Regions from separate parts of the Homo sapiens genome. Here region 1 is linked to region 2. The links come from fine-mapping of genetic effects on gene expression. A gene starts in region 2. The other region holds a variant in brackets. All regions are shown on one strand. Distances are from middle to middle.

Region 1 (11,511 bases), 81 kb before region 2:
GGAGGCACTCTTCAGTTATGAGGCTACCCAACCAGAGGACCTGGAGTTTCAGGAAGGGGATATAATCCTGGTGTTATCAAAGGGTAAGTGCTACTCCAAGACTATAGAAACAAATTTACATGTTAGCAGAAACAAGGTCAAGGGCAGAGAGAAGAAAATATCAATAATCTACAAACAAAACTTTAGCCAGTGTTTTCAACCCCCTTCCTAGCATCTAGCTGGAGGGAGCAAAGTTGAGCACTCAGACTTTCCCTGTCTATTGCTCTAGTAGCCAGGAAAGCAACAAGAAGCTGAGTTGTTTTGTTTTTGTTTTTGTTTTTGAGACAGAGTCCCCCTCTGTTGCCCAGGCTGGAGTGCAGTGGCACAATCTCGGCTCACTGCAACCTCCCCCTCCTGGGTTCAAGCAATTCTCCTGCCTCAGCCTCCTGAGTAGCTAGGATTACAGGCGCCCACCACCATGCCTAGCTAATTTTTGTGTATTTAGTAGAGATGGGGTTTTGCCATGTTGACCAGGCTGGTCTCAAACTCCTGGCCTCAAGTGATCCAACTGCCTCGGCCTCCTAAAGTACTGAGATTACAGGCATGAGCCACCGCACCTGGCCGGCGATAAACATCTTGATTATTAAAGAGGAGTATGCTTTGGAAACCATGGATTCTCATTCCCAGAGGTAACAAATTGGGCTGGAATCACTTTGCCTTTGCATCAAGCTGTATGACCTTCTGCAAACCATAGTTCTTTGAATTAATGTACTTTTCAAAGAGAAAAGTAGGTAAATTTTGCCTTAAAAACCAGCTATTCAGAACTATCCTGTGTCTCTGGTGACTTTCTTGATTCTGTTTGTAATGAACAGACTAAAAATTGAAACAGCATGCCTGTAATCCTAGCCACTAGGGAGGCTGAGGTAGGAGGATCACTTGAGGCCAGGAGTTCAAGGCTGTTGCCTGGGCAACACAGCAAGACCCACCTCTTAAAAGTGGAGAGTTCTAAGAATCCCTGGAAGAGTTTGTTAAATCAATTCCTGGGCCCACCCTCCAGAGATTCTGATTCAGGTCTGGGGTGGGGCCCACCAACTTGCATTTCTACCAAGTTTCCAGGTGATGCTGGTCTACTGCCTACACTCTTAAGAAGCACCATTCCAACTCGTGGTTTGCCAGCCTAATTCTCTACCTCGACACAAAAAAGTCCCATCATAAAAGCCCTGCTCATACGCTGAGTCTGTGCACTACCAATGCAAAGCAGTGAAAAACTACCATCAATTATAACAGAAAATCCAACAGACAAAGAGAGGGGGAAATTTTAAAGTTAATGAGGGTAGGCTGGGCCTGGTGGCTCACACCTGTAATCCCAGCACTTTGGGAGGCTGAGGTGGTGGATCACTTGAGGCCAGGAGTTGAAGACCAACCTGGCCAACATGGTGAAACCCCATCTCTACTAAAAATGTAAAAATTAGCTGGGCGTGGTGATGCACATCTGTAGTCCCAGCTGCTAGGGAGGCTGAGGCAAGAGAATCGCTTGAACCCGGGAGTGGAGGTTGCAGTGAGCCGAGATTGCACCACTGCCCTCCAGCCTGGGTGACAGAGCGAGACTCTGTCTTAAAAAAAATAAAAATAGGCCGGGTGCAGTGGATTATGCCTGTAATCCCAGCACCTTGGGAGGTCAATGTGGGCTGACTGCTTGAGGTCAGGAGTTCAAGACCAGCCTGGCCAACATGGTGAAACTCTGTCTCTGCTACAAATACAAAAATTAGCCGGGTATAGTGGTAGGTGCTTGTAATCCCAGCTATTCAGGAGGCTGAGGCAGGACAATCTCTTGAACCCAGGAGGAGGAGGTTGCAGTGAGCTGAGATTGTGCCACTGCACTCCAGCCTGGGTTACAGAGTGAGACTCAGTCTCAAAAAAAAAACAAAAACAAAAACAAAAAAATTAAAATTAAAAAAAAAGTTAATGGGGGTAGAGAGAGTATACAACAAGTGTGTAGCAATTAATTAAAAATATGAGTAGTATAGGCTGGGCGTGGTGGCTCATGCTGGTAACCCCAGCACTTTGGGAGGCCAAGGTGAGTGGATCACTTGGGGTCAGGATTTGAGACCAGCCTGGCCAACATGGTGAAACCCCATCTCTACTAAAAATAAAAAAATTAGCCAGGCGTGGTGGCGTGCACTTGTAGTTCCAGCTCCTTGGGAGGCTGAGGCAGGAGAATCACTTGAACTAGGGACATGGAGCTTGCAGTGAGTCAAGATTGCACCTTTGCACCCCAGTCTGGGCAACAGAGTGAGATTCTGTCTCAAAAAAAAAAATATGAGTAGTAGTAATATAGAAGCAGAGTGTTCCAACAAGAGAGAATGGTAACTCAGTGGGAAGAACTGGGTTGAACACCTCCAAGTGCCACTTTAAAGGTGCCTAAATCAACCAACCAGCTCAATTGTCTGGAGTTTGGGAGAGGGAGCAGGAATACAATGAAAGAACACACTAAAACAACCTTTTGGGTAGATATGGAGAGAAGCCAGTATGCGTCTTACTATGACCTATCTGTACAAGTCTAAGTTGAGGAAATACCCATATTGTAGCACTTCAACAGAAAACAGAATTTAGCGGTCAGGGTAGGACAGAGGGGAGTTCAATTGCATTCAAGTTATGAGATGGTCTCATCTACAAAGTGTTTCTCAAACTTTAATGTGCATGTGAATCACCTGCGAATCTTCCTAAATGGATTCTGACTCTGGTTTGGATCTGGGATTTTTCATTTCTAATATGCTTCCAGTCCACGACCTACCCTGTAAGAAGAATCAAGACAGTGATTTGCAGTTAGAATTACCTAAGGGAACTTTTGAAAAAACTGCTGCCCAGTCACACCACACATTAAAGCAAAATTTCTGGGGGCAGGATCCAGGCACCAGTGCCTTAATGTCTGATCTAGATGTACAAAGACAAACTTCTGAACTGGCTGTGTGGTCAGGTAGGTGGGCTTTGGAGATCATACCTAAGTTGTCTGATTTTTACTGGCAGAATGGCTCTGAACAAACTATTCATCTCTCTGGGTCTCCTTTTCCTTAGTAAAATATGGATACCTACAAGTTATTATGAAGTCTGAATATATTTTTTAAGTACAATGCCTGCACTCTATTAAAGGCTCTGAGTAGGAGCTATTAAAATATTTATATTTAACAAACATGTACTAACCCATCACTAGCTCCAGCTCACCTGTTTAATGGAGTTCAGTGAAAAGAAGAAAGTTTACTAAAGAACTTTCATTTTTAATATATTTAACCAATGGCATGTCCCTTTTCTGTAGTCAAAACAAAGATTCCCAACAAAGCGCAGGTAAAATTCTCTCCTCTCTTAAAAAATTGGGCCAGGCACGGTGGCTCACCCCTATCACCACAGCACTTTGGGAGGCTGAGTTGGGTGGATCACTTGAGCCCAGGAGTTTGAGACCAGCCTGAGCAACATGGCGAGATCCTGTCTCTAATAAATACAAAAATTAACCAAGCGTGGTGGCACAGCCTGTAGTTGCAGTTACTTGGGAGTCTGAGGTGGGAGGATTACTTGAGCCCAGGAGGCAGAGGTTGCAGTAAGCCCAGATTGTGCCACTGCACTCCAGCCTGGGTGACAGTGAGACCCTGTCAAGGTTGGGGGTGGGGAAAGGACAGAAATTCTATTTAAGGATTCGTTGTTCAATTTCTTTGACCCTTCTTCTCTATCTGGTAACTTTTTGAAAAACATAATTTATCCTTCTTCATTTTGCTCATTATCATGTTTAAGACAGATCAATAAGATGGTTAAACCCTGTGTTCACTCTCAAACCACTTTGCAATACTGTCTTTTCCCTGTTGATCACAATTAGGGGTGGGGAAGGGTGACAGATAACAAATTCTGTGTGGAATAGCCAGACAGGGTAATCTTCCTACAGTGGTTTTAGAAATCCATGTGTACTTTTCCTTTTATCAGTGAATGAAGAATGGCTGGAAGGGGAGTGCAAAGGGAAGGTGGGCATTTTCCCCAAAGTTTTTGTTGAAGACTGCGCAACTACAGATTTGGAAAGCACTCGGAGAGAAGTCTAGGATGTTTCACAAACTACAAAGCTGAAGAAAATGAAGCCCTATTACTTGTTTGTAAGATTTAGCACCCTTCTGCTGTATACTGTACTGAGACATTACAGTTTGGAAGTGTTAACTATTTATTCCCTGTTAAAATTTAACCTACTAGACAATGATGTGAGTACCCAGGATGATTTCCTGGGGCACAGTGGGTGAGGAGATGGGGACAGGTGAATGGAGGAGTTAGGGGAGAGGAAAAGTGGATGGAAGTGTCTGGAAAGGGCACGAGAGAGTCTTCCAGGTACTGATCCTGTTTCTTGCTCTGAGTGCTAGCTAGCCAGCTGTGTTCACACTGTAAACATTCATCAAGCTGTACATTTGGTGCACTTTTCTGTGTCATACCACAATAAAAAAAAACCTAGCATCTTACAAAAACAAGACACCCAAGTCCAGGCCCAAGGAGTAAGTACAAATATTCCTGTTTCTGAACCATTACTGTAATTGGCTCTTAAGGCTTGAAGTAACCTTATAGGTTACTCATAAGGCATATACAAATAAACTTGTTTGTTTTCTTTTTTCATTATGTCTTGTTGCTTAAACAGAACCTAGACTGAGTTAGGTTCTCATGGACTACAACACTCAATTCCACAGAGAATTAATAGAATTACATACCTTTGTACATTCTCAGAGAGGAACATGTGTTAAGAACTCAATACTGAATATATATCAATCGCCAACATTTAAGTGATGAAAAGCAGCGGTGTTCATGAAGCTAGTTCGTAAGTAGTATCTTGTTAGCTGACACTTCGTAATACAGTTATGCACTGCTTCACAATGGAGACATGATCTGAGAAACGTGTTGTGCAAACTCATCTAGAGTGCACTTACACAAGACTAGATGGTATAGCCTACTACACAGCTAGGTTACCAGGTATAGCCTACTACTCCTAGGCTACAAACCTGTACAGCATGTTACTATGTTGAATTCTGCAGGCAACTATACCACAATGGTAAGTAAGTATCATCAGTGTAAACAAACATAGAGAAGGTCAGCAAAAATGTATTATAATCTTATGGGAGCATCATTGTATATGCAGTCCATTGTTGACCAAAACATTGTTATATGGTAAATGACTGCATATACTATGCTATACTAATATACATAACAGAATGCTATGGATTTGGCTAACCCAATTGTCCAATTTTTCAGGATTAACTTGGGTGAAGGATTCTGTAACTAACTAAACTATTAGACCTTAAGGCCTGGCCTTAGTTCCTCTCCCTACCCACTTCTTGTTGTAGCGTATGTGGAGCTTTGCTAACAATTTTTCAAGTGTGCAGGCGCCTGTGAAAAGCAGAATAAGGAAGTGAACTGCAGACTGAATCAACATGCAGGTGAAAGGATAGCCGGTCAGGGTGAGCACACAGGCATTAAGGTTAGCTATACCACTGGCTTCCAGCACACAGTTGGAAGACCCAGCAAGCTACCAATCACTGGAAACTTTGGACACAACTCAAAGAAAAGAAACCCCAAAGCTAAGAAGAAGAATTAATTAATGTTGCTGCTAATCAGATTCAGTGAATTTTTACAGGCCAAAAGGATAAACTCTCTGAACTGCCTCAGTAACAGCTACAATAGGAATAAAAATAAAAATGATGGGCTCTTAATTCCTTAACATAAGGCATTCTTTTATTAAATAAAAGAATTTTGATAATCGATTTCTT[A/TCTTA]CTACTCATGCCTTTCCATTACAATTAATTATAATTTCCGTAATTCATTGGTTTGGAATGCTACTAAAAGCAAAATTAACCCTGAAAAATATTCAAGTTCTGACCATTTATGCCTTTCCCTGGATGACCTGTGAGTAGTTGAAATTCTTGCCTTTTAAGTTGGATTTTCTTCAATACTTCTTTTATATCTTTTAGGATAGAAAAGAAAGAATCGATACACAGATCTGGTTGGAGAGAACATGGTTTAATTAAAGGCAAAGCTGATTTTCAGCAGCTGCAGGTCTTGCACAGACAAAAACAAAAAACAAAACCCAGAAAACAAAACAAAAAACCACAAAAGAAAGTTTACTACACAAAACCAGTTTCTGATAAAGATTCTCCTCCCCCTCATTACTCCACAGTGAGGATGATAAGGCGAGGAATCCCGCCCCAAGAGTCAGAAAACATTCCAAACACCAAATTCTCATGCAGAATGGGGCTTTAGATAGGAGCTGGGTATTACTGGGAGTGAGATGGTAAACCTGGTTAGCTTGTCTAGGGCGCAAGAATCAGTGACAGTTCAAACACTGGAATGTTGCAGCTGCCTGAATGCAGAGCTCAAACACACAAACTGGGTAAAGGTAGTAGGAAAAAGGCTTGGGAAGAGGAGAGAAAGGTGGACACAGGGAAGGGGCTGAAGAGAAGCACAAAAGGTTTCATATTGCCATTGGGTAGGGGGCTTCACCTTTTCAGACCTTTCAAAAAAACAAAACCCAAACACCATGTCAAACTAAAAGAGCAATAATGTAAGCATACGGGGCGGGGGGGGCTCCAACCACTCTCTCTGAAGAGCAATGAGCGTTATCTCACCCCTTTTCATTGCTGGGGTTGCCCAGACTGCAGTGACAACTGGGGCTCCTGGATGTGCTTTGCTCTACAGCTGTCTTCCAGCTCTTAAGTTCCACACTAACTCCATACACTCGCACACACAACCCCTCCCCTCTGGGACAGCAGATGGGCACGTGTGTGTACACAAACATACAGACACACAAAGGAGAGACCTCCCAGAAAATAAACCCTACCACTAGCACAGCAATTGAACAATTAGATTGTTTCCATAATTTCCCCTTAAAATATTACTTTTCCAGGAAATGACTAACAGAAATGCTGTCCTTCTGTTTCTACACAAGAACATTTTCAGTCCTCTTTCCTCCTAATAAATATCATACAAAGAGTTTATTTTCCTTTCTTTCGTCTCTTCCAAAATGGACGACGTCGTGTTTTCTTCTGTGCCTGATGGGCACATGTCCGTGCTGCCTTGAATTTCACTCTGAAAGTGGAGGCTGGGAGACTGCAGCTGGGCAGGGGCCTGGGCCCTCTGTGGGCTACGCAGATACTGCTGCTTCCTTCCTCTTCAGACTGTCTTTTGGGCCCCAACTGCTGGACCCCATGCTGTTGCTTCTTGGGGAGATGTGATGTTGCACACATTAGGAATAAAAACAATTACTAGCATACAGCATTGGGTAAAAGAAGGGATGGAGATGGGGCAGGAGGGTGGGAAGTAGAATGGGGGCACAAAAACCAACCAAAGAAAAAATAACCACACTGAAAGCTTCTACCTATTAGAACGTGTCAGGCTGTGAATGGACTAGCCTGCCTTCTGTGAGACTGCTTGCTGTGCGACTGTAAAATGTACAGGAATCAAAAACGTAATTTGAAATCCTACAGCAGTCTACCTGCTAGTCCAGCCCAGCACCACCACCCACACTGTATCCTCGATTGGGGCTCGAGCACCTACAGAGTGAAGGGCATTCCCTGCTGGAGTCTCCTGGCCAGAGGAAGGCCTACCAGAGCCTTCTGACAGGCCTTGAACTCTCCCTTATGGAACATTTCCACTGGCTGAAGAGGTCGGTTCCCCATCCTGTCACCACCAACCTCTCACAGGAGCAGTGAACGGGGCTTTCCTTGCTACACACTGACTAGAAGCACACCTGTGTATGGAAGAATTCAGTGTGATATTTTACTACTGAGAGTAATAATAATAAAAGATGTTTAAGAATAATTTCAACTACATTCTCAGTCAGCAAAGCAATCATTAATGGATTCCTATTTTATTCCCCAAAGAGGAAAAAAGGACTGAGAAGTTCCCATTGGCTTCTCCCATCTGCCTTCCCTTCTCAGCTTTCACTTCCCATGTGGCTGGGGACATGCACGATGGAGAAGGTGAGAGGCGGTGATACCAAGTAACTGAGTGAGATAAACAGCAGTTCCTCTCTCTCTCCCTCCGGAGGGCCCCGGGGGGACGGAGAGTTCCTGATGGATTTTTCTTTTTGTTGCACTGCGAACATTTCGTGCACACTCAGCGGGCTGGTGGAATACTTACACCCTCTTGACAGCGAGAAACAGAAAAGAGGGCTGCCACCTGCAGGGGACTGTGTGGGCCAGTCCTGCAAACCCAACATGCCATGGTTTATGGAGCCTTCATTCCCAGGTTGCCACTTTGGCCTCAGTGTGGAGGGTTCATGGTGCCTTGTCCCCGTTGCTGTTTCTGCTTCTGCTGCATTAACAGCTGCTCCAGAGCAGAAGGTCCAGGATGCATCATGGAACTGGACCAGATAGACTGAAAAACAGTCCAGATCTTGTCAGCAGAGGTCAAATGCCAAGTTGTCTGAAAGGGATTTTTCAATCCCAGCCAAATATAAAGGCATATATATGGCCCCAAAACCCAACCCCACTCCCCATAAAAATCCAGCTATTAGAAAAAGTCATTATAAGACTCTTAAAGCTAGTTAGTTTCCATTAAGACTATTTTAAACCAGAAGAAGTGAAATCACATTTTATGTCAAGTCTTTTTACTGAAACTCAGCTGTATGTGGTACCACACAGGGCATTTACTATAAAGTTTTCAGGCAAATAAAACATTTCTAAAATTAGATACTCTTATTTTGTCAGAAAAGGCTTAAATCAAACATTCCAAAATGAATCAGAATTTTCTTAACCTTAGAATGAAACTAAAACCTTTGTTTTTGTCCTCCTGAAGATACTGCTTTACCACTAGTGAATTCAGAAATTAAAAATTATCACTCAAGAATCTTGTAAGGCAGACCATGTTTCTAGGACTTTGTTATATATGTGCTATGTATCAGTCAACTCCGAGGGCCTGAGAAGTCTAGCTATTTATGTGAATGAAAGCAGAGACACCTTTGCTGTAATAATCTTGTGGTTCTTGTTCCTGAAATCTACTCACCTTTAGGCTTTCCATGAGGACAGCAGAGGAATCCTCCATGGAAGGGCCATGGCCTGTCCAGGTGCCACTCGGAGTGCTGGCCTGATGCCAACTGCTCTCAGAGGATGACGTTGCTGAGAGATAATCAATGCCAAACCCACCCATGGCTAAGGGATGAAAAGAGATAAGAAAAATTCAAGAAGATGTTCTATCACTGCCAATTGCCAGACCCCAGGGAAGGATAGAGTAAATTCTTTCAATTTTGCCTGGCAATGAAATGTAGATCTCACCTGGCTTATCAGTTTTCCACCGATCTGCAGTCCTTCTATCCCTGTTATCTGGAGTCCCAATGGGTCCAAAATTGGAGAATGGAACAGAATTATGGTTGTGTGTTGGAGGAGAGCTGGGTAGGCTGCTTGGGTTAGAGGAATGAGGAGACTGGCTGGCTGGTGTTGAATGATCTATTAAATAATAGCAACACAGGATATAGTAAATCATTGTTTCACAAACATACAAAGAACTACAGGTTCCTGTAGATCTGATCACTAAAATTCTACTAACAATAACCACAGGGCTTTGAAGGAAAGGGAAACTAAAGGCTCCAAAGAGATCTGCTAGATGCACTAATTTGCCCTGCCACACATATCTAAGGCATATTCTTCGCCTTAAAAAAGCAAAATAAAATAGTAGGCAATTTTTGTCAACTGAATGAATGCCCTATTCTCACACGGCTATTTCAGATACATGTTTATTGGTCTTATGTATCAGAAAGAATTTGCTAACCTTAAGAATTACTATTAAGTCAGACTCTAAGTTAAAAATCTCAATTTTAAAAAGTGCAGAGCTGGGCACAGTGGTGTGCACCTGTAGTCCCAGCTACTTGGGAGGCTGAGATGGAAGGACTGCTTGAGCCCAGGAGTTTGAGTCTAGAGTGGGCAACACCACAAGACACTGTCTCAAAAAAAAAAGTGCAATTTTTCTGCAAAGAATGAACACCTACAAATAAAACTAAAAAGCAGCTGAGAACCATAAGATAGAACCTCTATTTTCTCCCTTACATCTCTGCTGGCTACTGAGGATGTAAAAAGTTTTGTCAGTAGCATTTATTACATAAACCGGCTTCTTCTTTTTTTTTTTCTATTTCCTTTCAGAAGTTACAAAAACAAACAAACAAAAAATAAAAATAACCCAACAAATGATATATTTGTAATTACAGAATCTCACTATCCCTTAATCAATCTGAGTGTACAGGAAATGTAAGGTCTATAATTTAAAGAGTAGTTAATACCTGAACTGGCAGGAAGTGATGGAGACCACGGAGTCCCTTCAAAAAGGGAATACAGAGATGTTTCCTGGGGGGCCATTGAGGGACTGAGTTCTGCTTTGGAGCTGGATGTCAGGTTTTTCCCATATACCTCATTGAACATACTATTATTTGGGTATCTTTCCTGAAAGACATGACAGTGAAGTTATAAACTCACCCCAAGGAAAGAGATTTGAGAAAATCCAATGTCTTGTTCATGGATGCTTGGTACACCTTAAGCTTTTCTTAGGAAGAGAAATTTTGAAGGCTTTTATTTCTTTTTGTTTCAATTTTCCAGTCAAATTAATTTTCCTCTTTGCTTTCTCTCACCCTTAAATTTGCTCTGTGTAAACTATCCAGGTTGAAAATGTGAATAATTTATTTGGCTCAAAAAGAGAGCCCTAAGGGTTTCAATATTAATGAGAAGTTAAAGGGTTTTAATTCATGATGTACAAGTCACTAGTATGCCCCAATCAGAGACAAGGGGGATAAAATCAAATATCTGGAATACACTAATACATGGAAAATAAAGAAAAAACAGACATACTGAAACAGTATGAGAAAGACAATGATCAGTCTACACTAAAAGCACACAGCAGGATTCTTCATTGTTCACCTACCTGATTGAGAGAGAATCCGGTGAGGGACAGGAAAGAGGATGAATGTGACATGAGCTCTGAGGGCTTCTCCAATAAGGATTTCTTCACAGTCCCAGAAAAAAAGGTAATTAAGTTATACCTTCTATTTTCTTAATATTAATCTTACCATACTATGGAACCAAAGCAAAAGCATGCCTGTATTCGCCCACTGAGTACAATTTGAGGCTCAGAAGATGTGAATTCAAATCTGTTAACACCAAGACACCGCCTAAGTGCCAGTTGCCACAGGTGCATAGAATCCTCCTTTTAGATCAAACCTAGTCAGAGATTATATTCTGGCAGGGACCAGAGACCCTGGTAAACAGCACTCTGAGTGTTTATGAGGCATGGACCTCAGGAATCCCCTTGTCAATAGTTGCACTTAATCTCAAAACAAAATGCTGAACTGTTCCAACACTGTTTCTCTCCACCCCACAATTTTTAAAACATTAACATTGGTGACTTTTAAAAAGCCTTTCAAATCCATTTGACAAATGGCTTTGTTAATATGCTTTTTAAGCAGCTCTATTTGCAGTATATAGTAAAACAGTTGCTAAAAGTCAAGCTTACATTTATTGGCCCTAGCAAAGTTATTAGGAGAAA
Region 2 (11,511 bases):
ATATATCTTTACTACATATATTTTCTAAATCAGTGGTTCTCAACTGGGGGTGAATTTACAATCCAGGGGACATCTGGCAATGTGTGGACATTTTTTATTGTCACGATTGCAAGGGAAGATACTGGCATTTAATGGATAGAGGCCAGGGATGCTGCTGAACGTCTTACAATGCTCAAGACAACCCACCACAACAAAGAACTATCTGGACCAAGTCGTCAATAAGTGCCAAGGTTGAGAAATCCTGTTGTAAATGAAACAGACAAGAAAAAAACCCAAAGCTGCCACATAGTCTACTTGAGATTCCTAAAATTTTCTTAGACAATTAGTAGAATCACCTCCTCTTTCCACTGACTAAAAACTGGGTCTAAGGGAGAGTAAAAACAATGTTCCTAAGCAGCTCCATTTACACACTAACAAAAAAAGAGCTGGTTACAAGCTGTCACTTACCATGTGACATACCTGCCAAAATTCCACTCTTATATTTCCTTGTAAATGCTTAGTTACAATTTCCCAGACAGCTGATAAGTCTATTCATAACAATACAGCAACTAAACTAAAATATGGCTTGACTGCAAAACTTTAATGGCAATATATAATGGCCATCTGCCAATATACCTACAAACAGATGAATAATCCACTATCTACAAGACGTATGCTTTATAATTTATTCTCTACACAAGATCAATTAAACTAACCCATCTAAACTTTCAGGCACTCATTCATGACACTAATACAAAAATTTGAAAGGCTAGCCGGAGGCAGGAAACAATTTTTCTCAAGTATAAAACACACCAGCCCTTTTAAAGTGTGAACCACTCTCCACCTCAAAACTGCCTCATGAAACTTGCAATACTAGTGGGTCCAGATCTTACTGTAACACATCCATTAAAAACAACAACATAAAACTCAGCAATTGCTTCTTCTACCATGAAGGCAGAAGACCACAGCTGTTAGAAAGCAAAGAAATGAAACCTAAGATAGGACAGGAAGTATACATTTTGAATCCAAATGAAACCACAAGGGAAGCAGAAATTAACTGCCAAAATAATTTAGTCAGACAATATCCAAGCAGGTAATAAGCTATTAACACTGTTATAACAAAGACTTATAAGCCTAAAGAGACAGTCATTCATTCAAAAAATGTCACCACCTTTGGCTGATATTCCGGGACAAAAGCTACTTTACATTCTGTAAAGCATGTACCTGGTGGAAAGGAAGGGGATGGGGCAGGTGAAGAAGACTTCGTGGACCACATGGACTAAAATCAGCATGTGCTCTAAGACTTCTAGAAGCTTCAGGATACAGTGACTATCTGATCTAGCATTACTAGACTCTTCTAGAACCTGGAGACCATCCTATTTATATATTCCTCCCAATGCTCCCACTATCTTCTCTGTTCCTCTCCCCAGGCTAGGATAAGGCTTAGCTTGCTACTTTATCCAGCCTTATCTCCACTATCTCTCTGTTTCAAGATTTATAGTGATACATTTTTATTTTATACCATATTGGATATTTTACTTCCTATTTAAATGACAACCATTTTTCTGCTGGCTTAGAAAACAACCCTGTGGCTGTTATATTAGTAACAAAACTTCTGACAAGTGAGCCACTGAGATGCAGCGTCTTCACTATACATGTATCATACAAAAAATATATGTATATATACACACATATGTGCATAGACACATATACATATATGTATACATACACACATACACACATGTATATATGCACACATATGCACACACATGTATATATGCATATATACACATGCACACACGTATATATGCATATATACACATATGCACACACGTATATATGCATATATACACATATGCACACACGTATATATGCATATATACACATATGCACACACGTATATATGCATATATACACATATGCACACACGTATATATGCATATATACACATATGCACACACGTATATATGCATATATACACATATGCACACACATGTATATATGCATATATACACATATGCACACACGTGTATATATGCATATATACACATATGCACACATGTATATATGTATATATACACATATGCACACATACACACACACACACACACACAAAACAAAACAGATACTTTCTGGACCTTTCCTGTAAAGGAGTCTAACAGTAGGAATCCACTTCAAGTGGATCTCACTGAAACACTCACAGCATAGGAAGAAATTAGAGACAAAAGAGAATAGTGAAGGAAGAAAAGGAGGAAAGTTGAAGGGAGCATAGAGTATGAACAGTGGCTCCCACAATGGCAGCAGAAGTCATTCGGTGGCACCTGTGCCACCTTTTATAACAGGATTTGACCTGTTTGACTGGTATTCCCTATAGCTATGATTATTCTACTTTCTCATCTTCCAAAACAACTTTGATGTCTTCTCTGTCTGGTACTTTAATACTTCCCCCACTCCTGCTTTTCCAACTTTGATATGTTAATTTCCACTTTTCTTTTTTTCAAAATGCCATTATTTTAAAGCATAATATTATACCTCACCTGCGGCCTATCCTAACCTTCTCCTACCCCCATCAAATGAATTGTATTCAATACACCCTTTCTTTTACTCAACAGAGGTGTCAAAGTCTTTTAAAATCTTTCATTCTGTCATAAATCAAAAGAGAAAATACTCTGAATTCTCCTTCAATTTGAGTAATAAATTCCCAATGTTATTCGGCCTAGAACCCTCATATTTAAGATCATATTTTTATTTTTATAAAACATAACAAAGTATTTTCAACTTAACTGATTCTCTTAGAAGTCTTGTCAGTGTATTAAAAAGATACTTACCTTTCAACAAACAAAAAATTTCATTATCCTTTCCTGCCCAGAATATCATCATCTTTCCCACATAGAAGATAGGTTTTCTTCCTTTCATCTCTGCTCTATTTTTATAACTTGAGACTAATTCAGTTCCCTTGATGTTGAATTCTCTCTTTATTGGTCTTACTGGGACTTCTTGCCTCCTATCTTCATTTCTGACCCTTCTGAAACAGCCATCTTGCTCCTTGGTTTCCCACCACCCCACCATTTCAATGCCAGACATCCCAGCTCATTTACTCTAACAAATTAAAATTCAGCCAAGACAAAACTAATTTTCATCTACATGAGGCAGGATCTGTAGCTATAGAGATTAAAAATTGCCCAGTCATGATCTTCCACCACTGACAAAGGTAGGCAAGAAAATTCTTCAAGTCAAGGTCACGAAAACAATTGCTACACCCCCCAACCACATCCATTCAGCAATACTCGGCATCCTCCCTGAAGTGTCTATAAAAACCAACAGTTCTATTTTCAAAGAACGTGAACATAATGCTTCCCTAAAGACATTCTCTAGTGTCCCCACTGCAGACTTTAAATGGAATGATTATCTAAAAGAGGAGGAGGGAAATTCAGACTGGCACAAGCCTTTATGATTCCCACAACCACCACCTAGGTCTCAGACTTCTAACACTTGTTTTAATTTACTTAGGACAAATGCCTAAGATTGAGACAAGACTGGCTCCAGGAATCTTTAAGGGACCCCAGGACCTATGCCTCCCCCATTTTGCCTGCTCAATTTTAGCTGAAAAATATCATTGTATTCATTTTTTTTCTCCCTTCTTCAAAGAACTAAGTTCATCTCAAACTATCATTGATTCCACATCTAAGGAAGTCTTCCCTACCATGTCAAGCTATAAAATATAAGGCACATTAACAAGAAGCCTCTCAAAGTCCACTGATCTTCCCCATTAAAAGTACCACCACTCTGCCAATTTGTTTTTCATAACTTTCTAGATCCACTGCCAGTACCTTATTCAGGACCAAAGTCCCAAAGGGAATCTTTTGTAAGGAAAAGAACCTTACAAAAAGGACCAATTTTGAAGTCTTCCCCTTTTCTAAGCAGTAGTCACTCCCCAATTAATGTCAGGCTCTAACAACCTTACTTTTCTCTGTTATCCACCACTACATTACACAGAGTCATTTTCCTAACACATAGCTGTGAACATATTAATTCTAGCAAATCATCTCAGATTCTCCATTGTCTACCCATTTTAACTATAAATTATGGAACATGATATTCAGGATCCTCTTAAATATGGTCACCTTATCAAATAGGATTTCCCCGACCACTTTGTCCAGATAAAACAGTACATCCCTGTCTTACTTTATTCCTCTTCCTAGTGCTTGTGACCACCTGATATATATTTAACTGCTATGTTTACTGACTGTGCCCTTCTACTATAATATATCCTCCCATGTTCACCCTTTTATTCACCAGTGTACCCTCAACACTAGAATATATTATGTTCTCAACTTATATTTGTGGAAAGAACAGATGAATACTGACATGCAGTGTACTACAGCTGACTTGAAGTTAGAAGACCTACATTTCAGTTAGTTTCCACATACCAGCTATATGAGCCTCAACAATTTTACCTTCTTTGGGCTTACATTCCTCATGTGTAAAAGGAAAGGGTCAAACTTGATAATCTCTACAACTCTTAAGTTTTCTCAGCTATATCACACTACCTTGTTGTCTAACTGGACTGAATACCTCCCTTCCCCCCAGCTTCCCTACCTACATAACTCTGCTCAGTTTCCTTCCATTTGGAATTCCCCGCTTCTCAATCCACATCTGTCAAAATGAACATTAAGGATGAACAATATCCTAAGTGCCATTTTCTTGAAGTCTAACAAAGTGTAAGCTCTGTAAAAGGAGGGTGGAGTTGTTCTTTTTCTATTCTCAGATGTTGGTACAATGCCTCCCATACAGGTGATCAACAAAACAACTAATGAATCATGAGTACATGAATGAGCAAATAAACAAAGTCTTTCCTGATTTCCTCCCATTGCTCAGGTGATCTCCTGCCTTTGGACTCAAAACACTTCGTATCTTTTATTTTTATTTATGTATTTACTTATTTATTGAGACGAAGTTTCACTCTTGTTGCCCAGGCTGGAGTGCAATGACGCCATCTCGGCTCACTGCAACCTCTGCCTCCCGGGTTCAAGCGATTCTCCTGCCTCAGCCTCCCGAGTAGCCGGCATTACAGGCGCCCACCACCATGCCCAGCTAATTTTTTGTATTTTTAGTAGAGACGTGGTTTCACCATGCTGGCCAGGCTGGTCTTGAACTCCTGACCTCAGGTGATCCTCCCGCCTAGGCCTCCCAAAGTGCTGGGATTACAGGCGTGAGCCCCCGTGCCCGGCAACGTTTGGTATCTTTCATGGTACTTACACTCTGTGCTGTTTAATTTACTTGCCTAACAGATACTCAACTGCAAATTCCTTAAGACTAATCAGCACCCTGATGGTTTCCATCTCTCTATAGCACCTACAACAGATCTTTGTCATAGCTATATTTATTTGAAATATTAAACAACAAAGGGATATCTAAGATGAAAAAAAGGACCTCAAATTACAGACATCATTCCAACTGTCCTGTGGTCACTGGGCATATATGTTGTGTTAAAATCAAGCATTCAAGCATTGTTCAAATATCTCATCATTCTCTTCTCTCCCTATTATGCTTAATAAAACTTTACTACTTTAAAAATTATAATGGCCACCCTATGTATCAGGTAACTACACACCTCTTGCAATATACATATAGGGATCCACACACGTCAATACTTTCATGTCACTAAACAGCTAAAGTGACTTTTCCACTCATTTCAGACTTCCACCTCATCCAACTCCCTCCTCCGCAAGGTATGAAACAATTTTTTAAAAAACATCTTTCCATAAGGCCTCCCTTTCTTAGTTCTGCTCCTGAAAGACAAAAAGGACCAATTTTAAAGTCTTCCCCTTTTCTAAGCAGTAGTCACTCCCCAGTTAATTTCAGGATCTAACAACCTTACTTTTCTCTATCAAGATTTTTGACCCACTTTACCTCTGCCTCCAAGCTCTTACTCAGCTTCCATGGAACCTTTCAGCTGACACAAAAGCTGGTGTCCTTCCATTCAATATGTTCTCGCCATCAGGTACTAAGTTCAACCTATCTACATCTTCATCCTGAAATGTGCATCAATCGCCGCGCCCCCCACCCCAGACACACATCTCGCACACACACACACTATTCCCATGTGTCACTCTACCTCTGACATACAAGTTCCTTACACCACTCTTAATGAATACACACGACTCTCAGAATGGTATCTTCCGACTACACTGATTCTAACCCAGTTTCTTCTGAAAAACCCAACCTTGTCCACAGTGCCTCCCTCTTTCCTCACTTCCCCATCTATTCCCCTTCACGCCTCCCCACACCGCCAACTAACTACAGATGACATTATTCCTCAATACTCCCAACCCGAGAATGAAGAACAAGCTCCAGTTTCCTGCGGTCTCCCTCTCCCCCTGTCTGCCCTCCGCGGTTCCCCCGCCCCAACACCCCAGGTGTGCAGACTTCCTCCCCGTCCTCTACTCATGCATCGCTCCAACCAATCCCACGCCACACCACGAGTCCCCTGCCACGGGGATCAGACTCCTCCACACCCACCTCCACTCGGGGTCGCCGCCGCCTCCCCGGACGTTTCTCTCCACCCCTCGCTAGCAAACCCGAGACCAAGGGCGCGCGCGCACATTCTCACGCTTCCCCAACCTCCCTCCTCGCACCGGGACGAGCCGGCTTCGCCAGAGCTCAGCCCGGGCGGTAGGGGCTAGGCACCCATACCCGTTCCGCCCCCTCCCGCAGATCCCCTTGCAGTCTCCGCCGACCTGCCCGGCGAGGAGAGGACGCAGCAACTCCCCCGCCACCCCGGACTTACCTCGGTGTCTGTTGCTCCATGCCCCAACCTGCGGCCCGCTCCCCCTACGTACCAGCCCGGCCTCGGCACTCACCGGAGGTACTGCGCGCTCTGCAGGCTCATCCTCCGCCGCCGCCGCCGCGTCTTCCCGCGAAGCCTCCGTGGGTCTCTCAGGCTCCTCGGAGCGGCCCCGCGGCACCGCGGGTGCTGGCGGCCGCCGCCATCTTCCTCTCCTCCGGCTCCTCCTCGCTCGGCAGGGGGGTGGGGGTGAATGAGGCGAGGGGGAGGGAGTGGGGAAAGCTGCTCTCGCTGCTGCTCTGGCCCGTGGGGCGCAGGGACACTCCGACCCGGGGGGGAGGGGGAGGGAGGAGGGGCGGGGGAAAGAGGAGAAGCAGAGGAAGTCGGCGACCGGGCGAGGGAGGGGGTCCCTCTCGCGAGATTTCAGCAGCGCCTGTCCCTCAGTGATTTCCGCCTCTCTGTAGCGCTCCCTTTTGGGATCAACGAGCTGTGTGGCGCCTGTGCGGCTTCTGAGAGACCGGCTGGTGGCGCTTGGCGGCTTCCTGCCAATCCACCCTTCTCCTCCCGCGCAAGGGGGCAATCCCAATCCCACCACCGGGAACACCCAGGCCAAAAGAACGGGAGTTACACTCAAAGTCTTCCCCCTTCTTATCACTCCTGCCGATTTCCCTCTTCCTTTTTGCACGCCTCCACTCTTCCCCACCGGAAACGCCGCCCCTTCCTCCTACAGTTCCTCCCAGCAGTCCCTCAACGCCTGTCTTCCCTCGCGCGTAGAGAGTGACTCGAAGGACCCCCTCTCCTCTTCGCTGCAGCCCCTCCCCATGCACGCTGGGAGACTCTTGGAGGGGATAAGGTGGGGCCCGGAGAGGAAGAGAAGACAATCGGATTGGATAGGCAGCTGCCATGGCAACTGGAGGCTGTGGTTATATTGTCATAGTAACCGATGTGTGCGGACAGGGTCACCCTCCCCTTGGCCAATGGATTCCCAGGAAACCACCCAGGGTTCCCCGTTGGCTTCCCTTCCATCTAAAGGCCTCCCCCAAGTTAGGAATCGATATAGTTCTCCCCGGTGGTGAAGTCCACTTCCTCCTCCCTTCCCACTTCCCACAGCAACTGGGGGGACACCCCGAGGCATTCACCATGGGCTTTTCCACCCGCCTGCGAGCGGGAACCACCTCCGTAGTTTCCTCTCAGAGCCGGGCGTGGAGAGGGCTGGGCCTGCGAAGAGGATGCATGGCCTGGAGGCTGGCGGGCGGCGGGCTGGAGTCGGGAGGGCGAGGCGACAGCGCCAAGCGGCGAGGAAGGGCAAGGGGTTTCCCCACAACTGCCTTGGGCTCTGGGAGGCGGGATCCCGCCTGGACGGGGTCCCTGAGGGAGGAGAGCGGCACACGACAGCCGCGATGCCTTCCCTGCCGACGGGGATAGCCGACTTCTGGCGAGTCGACCCCTCCCCCAAATCCACCCCACCCGCGTACTCCCTCCTGACCTAGCTGTCGCGAGCCTGCCGCGAGGAGGCCAGGGTGAGGGTGGGAACACATCCTAGAAGGCTAACACGTGGTTTTCTATCATTTAAGCCGGGGACAAGCCGGAAGGCTGACTAGCGCCATCACTCTGATAGGCACCCCGCAGTGGGGATCCTGCTTGATTATTAAAGGCAGACCTCCAAGTTCCTCCCTGCTCTGCAACCTTTCTCTTCTCACGGGTCTGCAGTGTTTTAAAAGTCGTCATTCTGTGTCGTTGAGTTAGAGAGGAAAACATCGGATAAAAGAGGATCAAGAAGAACGAACCCTAGATACATCTGTCTGGTGAAAGGAGTCTAGGAAAAGAAGTTTCATTCTTAGAACAAATCTTTTTGGATATTTATTATGTGTGTTTTGTGTCAGGTTTCGGGCCAAAAAGCTGAAATAAAGAACGAAGTCAATAATAATATGAAGTGTATGAGAAATAGCTGGAAAATTCATCATCCATGACTTGAAGAAATTGACGTTTTACAAGTTATATTTTCGGTTCGTATTGTGGAGTCACTTAAGGAGCTATCCCAAAGTACTTTAGGATATGTAACTATATAAAACCTTCCAAGAATGCAGCCCTCATAGGATAGTTAAAATAAGGATTTTAATGGGCTATTTTGATTTGGTTTGGTCTGGTTTGGCTACCTGATTCCTGCTGTCTTTTTCTACGCCAGGTGAAGAGGCACTTTCAAGATCCTTCTCTGAGACCTGCACCAATAAGACTATACCAATGTTCAGTTGAAACATCAGGTATAAGTTTAGCGGAAACGAAAGTACAACCTGCTTTGAAATAAATTCCAAGGACAGATTGTCATTAACGAAATAGAAAGTGGACTATGCCCCTCATGCTGCCAGCGCCTGGTATGGTGCGGCGTGACACGCAGCGCTTGCGGCAGTACAATGCCCCCAATCACCCGCCCCGCCCCGACGCGCCGCCCACTCACGGCAAAGAGAGCCACCTAGTGAGGGATTATTCTCATTTCCGCGGTGGGGTTCTGCTTTTCTTTCTACCATGAGCGCCCAAGGATAGACACTCCTACTACCTATTACCTCAAATAGCCTACATTTCTTTCCGAAAATTTATTGGTTAGATATTTTTCTTTTTTTTTTTTAATTTAAAGACCAGTGTGATCGTGTATTGGTTAGATTTTTTAATTGGTTAGATTTCAACCAGAATAAAAATTGTAATAATTACCCCCTTACTAATCATGGTAATAGCCATTTATGTCTGTGGCACATATCTCCAATAAAGAGTGTATGAACAGTTATCATACATTCCTGATAAGCAATCTAGGAAAATATTACTACTATCTTCTCATTTTGGAAATAGAGAAACGGATCAGAAAGATGAATCCTTTTGTTAGTGTTTGCTGATTTATTCCATAAACATTTACTGAGTACTTATTATATTTCAGACACTGTTCTGGTTATGATGGACACCACAGTGAAAGAGACCTGGTCCCTGCCTTGAGGAAACCCAACTGCTGGTAGAGAGCTCAGAGTAATGATTAGGATGCAATATGAGGGATGCAGTAATTGGGGTAAGAACAAAGTAGGAACACATGAGGTCAGAAATAATAAAGTCTGTGTTTTATAGCAGCTTTCCTAAGAATCTTATAAGAGTCTTCAATAGCTTTACAATATCTCTAGCTAAATAGAAGAATAGTAGTATATTTTAGAGATTAGAAGACTTTGATACTAATATTAAAATTACCTTCAAAAATCAATAGGACTCAGAAAAATTATTACCTTCTATTTATATACTGTTTAATACACATTTTCCATTTTCATCTATTTCCACTTGTCCTAGTCAACAAACTTGTAGAATTACAAACATCTTTCTTTTTGCAATAGATATTGTTCACCTTTTCCCCCCTACAGATATAAGATCACATCTAAACCAAAAGAAATTAAAGAGAAGCTTCCTTACTTACATTAATCCTACCAGATTTTGTTTTTGGGTTTGTCTTTTTGGCTAAGTGATTTCATGGAAAGATCACAAGCTAACGGACCTGAGTATGCATTCTAACTCTGCCATCTTGGTGTCTGAACTTCAGTTTGCTCCTTGACCAAAATGGAAGCATTACCTGTTATAGGCTTCCTGTGACCTTTAATGATGACATACATGATTGAGTGCCCATTATACAACACTGAACTTGATAAACATTAAATTTTTTTCTGCCTTTTTGCTTTTTTTTTTTTTTTTTTTGAGACAGAGACTTACTCTGTCACCCAGGCTGGAGTGCAGTGGCACAATTTCAGCTCACTGCAACCTCTGCCTCCTGGGTTCAGGCAATTCTTGTGCTTCAGCCTCCCAAGTAGCTGGGACTACAGGTGTGTGCCACCACGCCCAGCTAATTTTTGTATTTTCAGTAGAGACAAGGTTCACCATGTTGGCCAGGCTGGTCTCAAACTCCTGACCTCAAGTGATCCACCTGCCTTGGCATCTCAAAGTTCTGGGATTACAGGTGTGAGCCACCTTGCCCAGTCCCTTTTGCTCTTTTATATCAAGCTAAAAAGAGTAAAATAGAACTACTACAGCATAACATTATTTTTTAAAATAATACTCTATCTAGTCTTTTTTTTTTTTAAATAGAGATGCAGCCTAACTGTATTGCCCAGGCTATCTATCTCTAACTCCTAGCCACAAGCAGTCCTCCCGCCTCAGCCTCACAAGTAGCTGGGATTTTAGGTGTGAATCACTGTACCCAGCTCTCAATCTAGTCTTTGTCTATAATACTCATAGGTCTGAACTCACATTCAAATCTATTGGCATCCAGTGCTAGAAGATAGATTTCTTTATTCATGACTGATTACAGAAAAGAACACAATATTAGGACATTGTGAGTCCAATGCTAGAGATTTAAAACTTTTCAAAAACCTTTTATCACATAAAACAGGCTAATATAACCACATTTCTGTCCAAGTAGATGGAATGGCCTCTTTTCAATCAAACACAGTACTTGCTGAGAAGCTACTCTTAACATTCTTACCAAATTTACCCAGAGCTTTGGTAACCTGACGATTAATACATAGCAGGCCTCCTCCCTTTTTATAATAATAGACAGCCTGTGCCATGACATCGTAACAAGCCCTAATTTATTTTAATATTTATCCTATATATTCTGAATGTTTATAAATCCTGTGCACAATTAGGAACTTGGTAAATCATTCTCATCAAAGCAGAAACACATTTATTATCAGTTGCATACTCAGTACACAATATGTGTGAAG

The links. PIP is the estimated chance that this variant, and not a neighbour inherited with it, causes the effect.
Region 1: its variant is fine-mapped to the expression of SMG7 in whole blood (INTERVAL, PIP above 0.99).

What each region holds. Positions count from the first base shown.
Region 1 is chr1:183,548,668-183,560,178 of GRCh38, reverse strand. SMG7 (SMG7 nonsense mediated mRNA decay factor) reads right to left here. Exons shown (of 23, transcript NM_001375584.1): 19 at 10,891-10,971; 20 at 10,256-10,415; 21 at 9,258-9,428; 22 at 8,989-9,134; 23 at 5,988-8,361. The coding sequence ends at 8,248. It overlaps NCF2 (neutrophil cytosolic factor 2), which reads left to right. Exons shown (of 15, transcript NM_000433.4): 14 at 1-83; 15 at 3,949-4,617. The coding sequence ends at 4,061. Among named protein-coding and RNA genes, the nearest start is that of NCF2, 36 kb to the left of the region's middle. The variant A/TCTTA (reference allele first, on the strand shown) is at 5,763.
Region 2 is chr1:183,467,981-183,479,491 of GRCh38, reverse strand. SMG7 (SMG7 nonsense mediated mRNA decay factor) reads right to left here and starts at 6,993. Exons shown (of 23, transcript NM_001375584.1): 1 at 6,843-6,993. The coding sequence starts at 6,871. It overlaps SMG7-AS1 (SMG7 antisense RNA 1), which reads left to right and starts at 7,510. Exons shown (of 5, transcript NR_040063.1): 1 at 7,510-8,772; 2 at 8,952-9,027; 3 at 9,693-9,818. RefSeq lists silencers at 7,006-7,155, 9,128-9,317 and an enhancer at 7,311-7,942.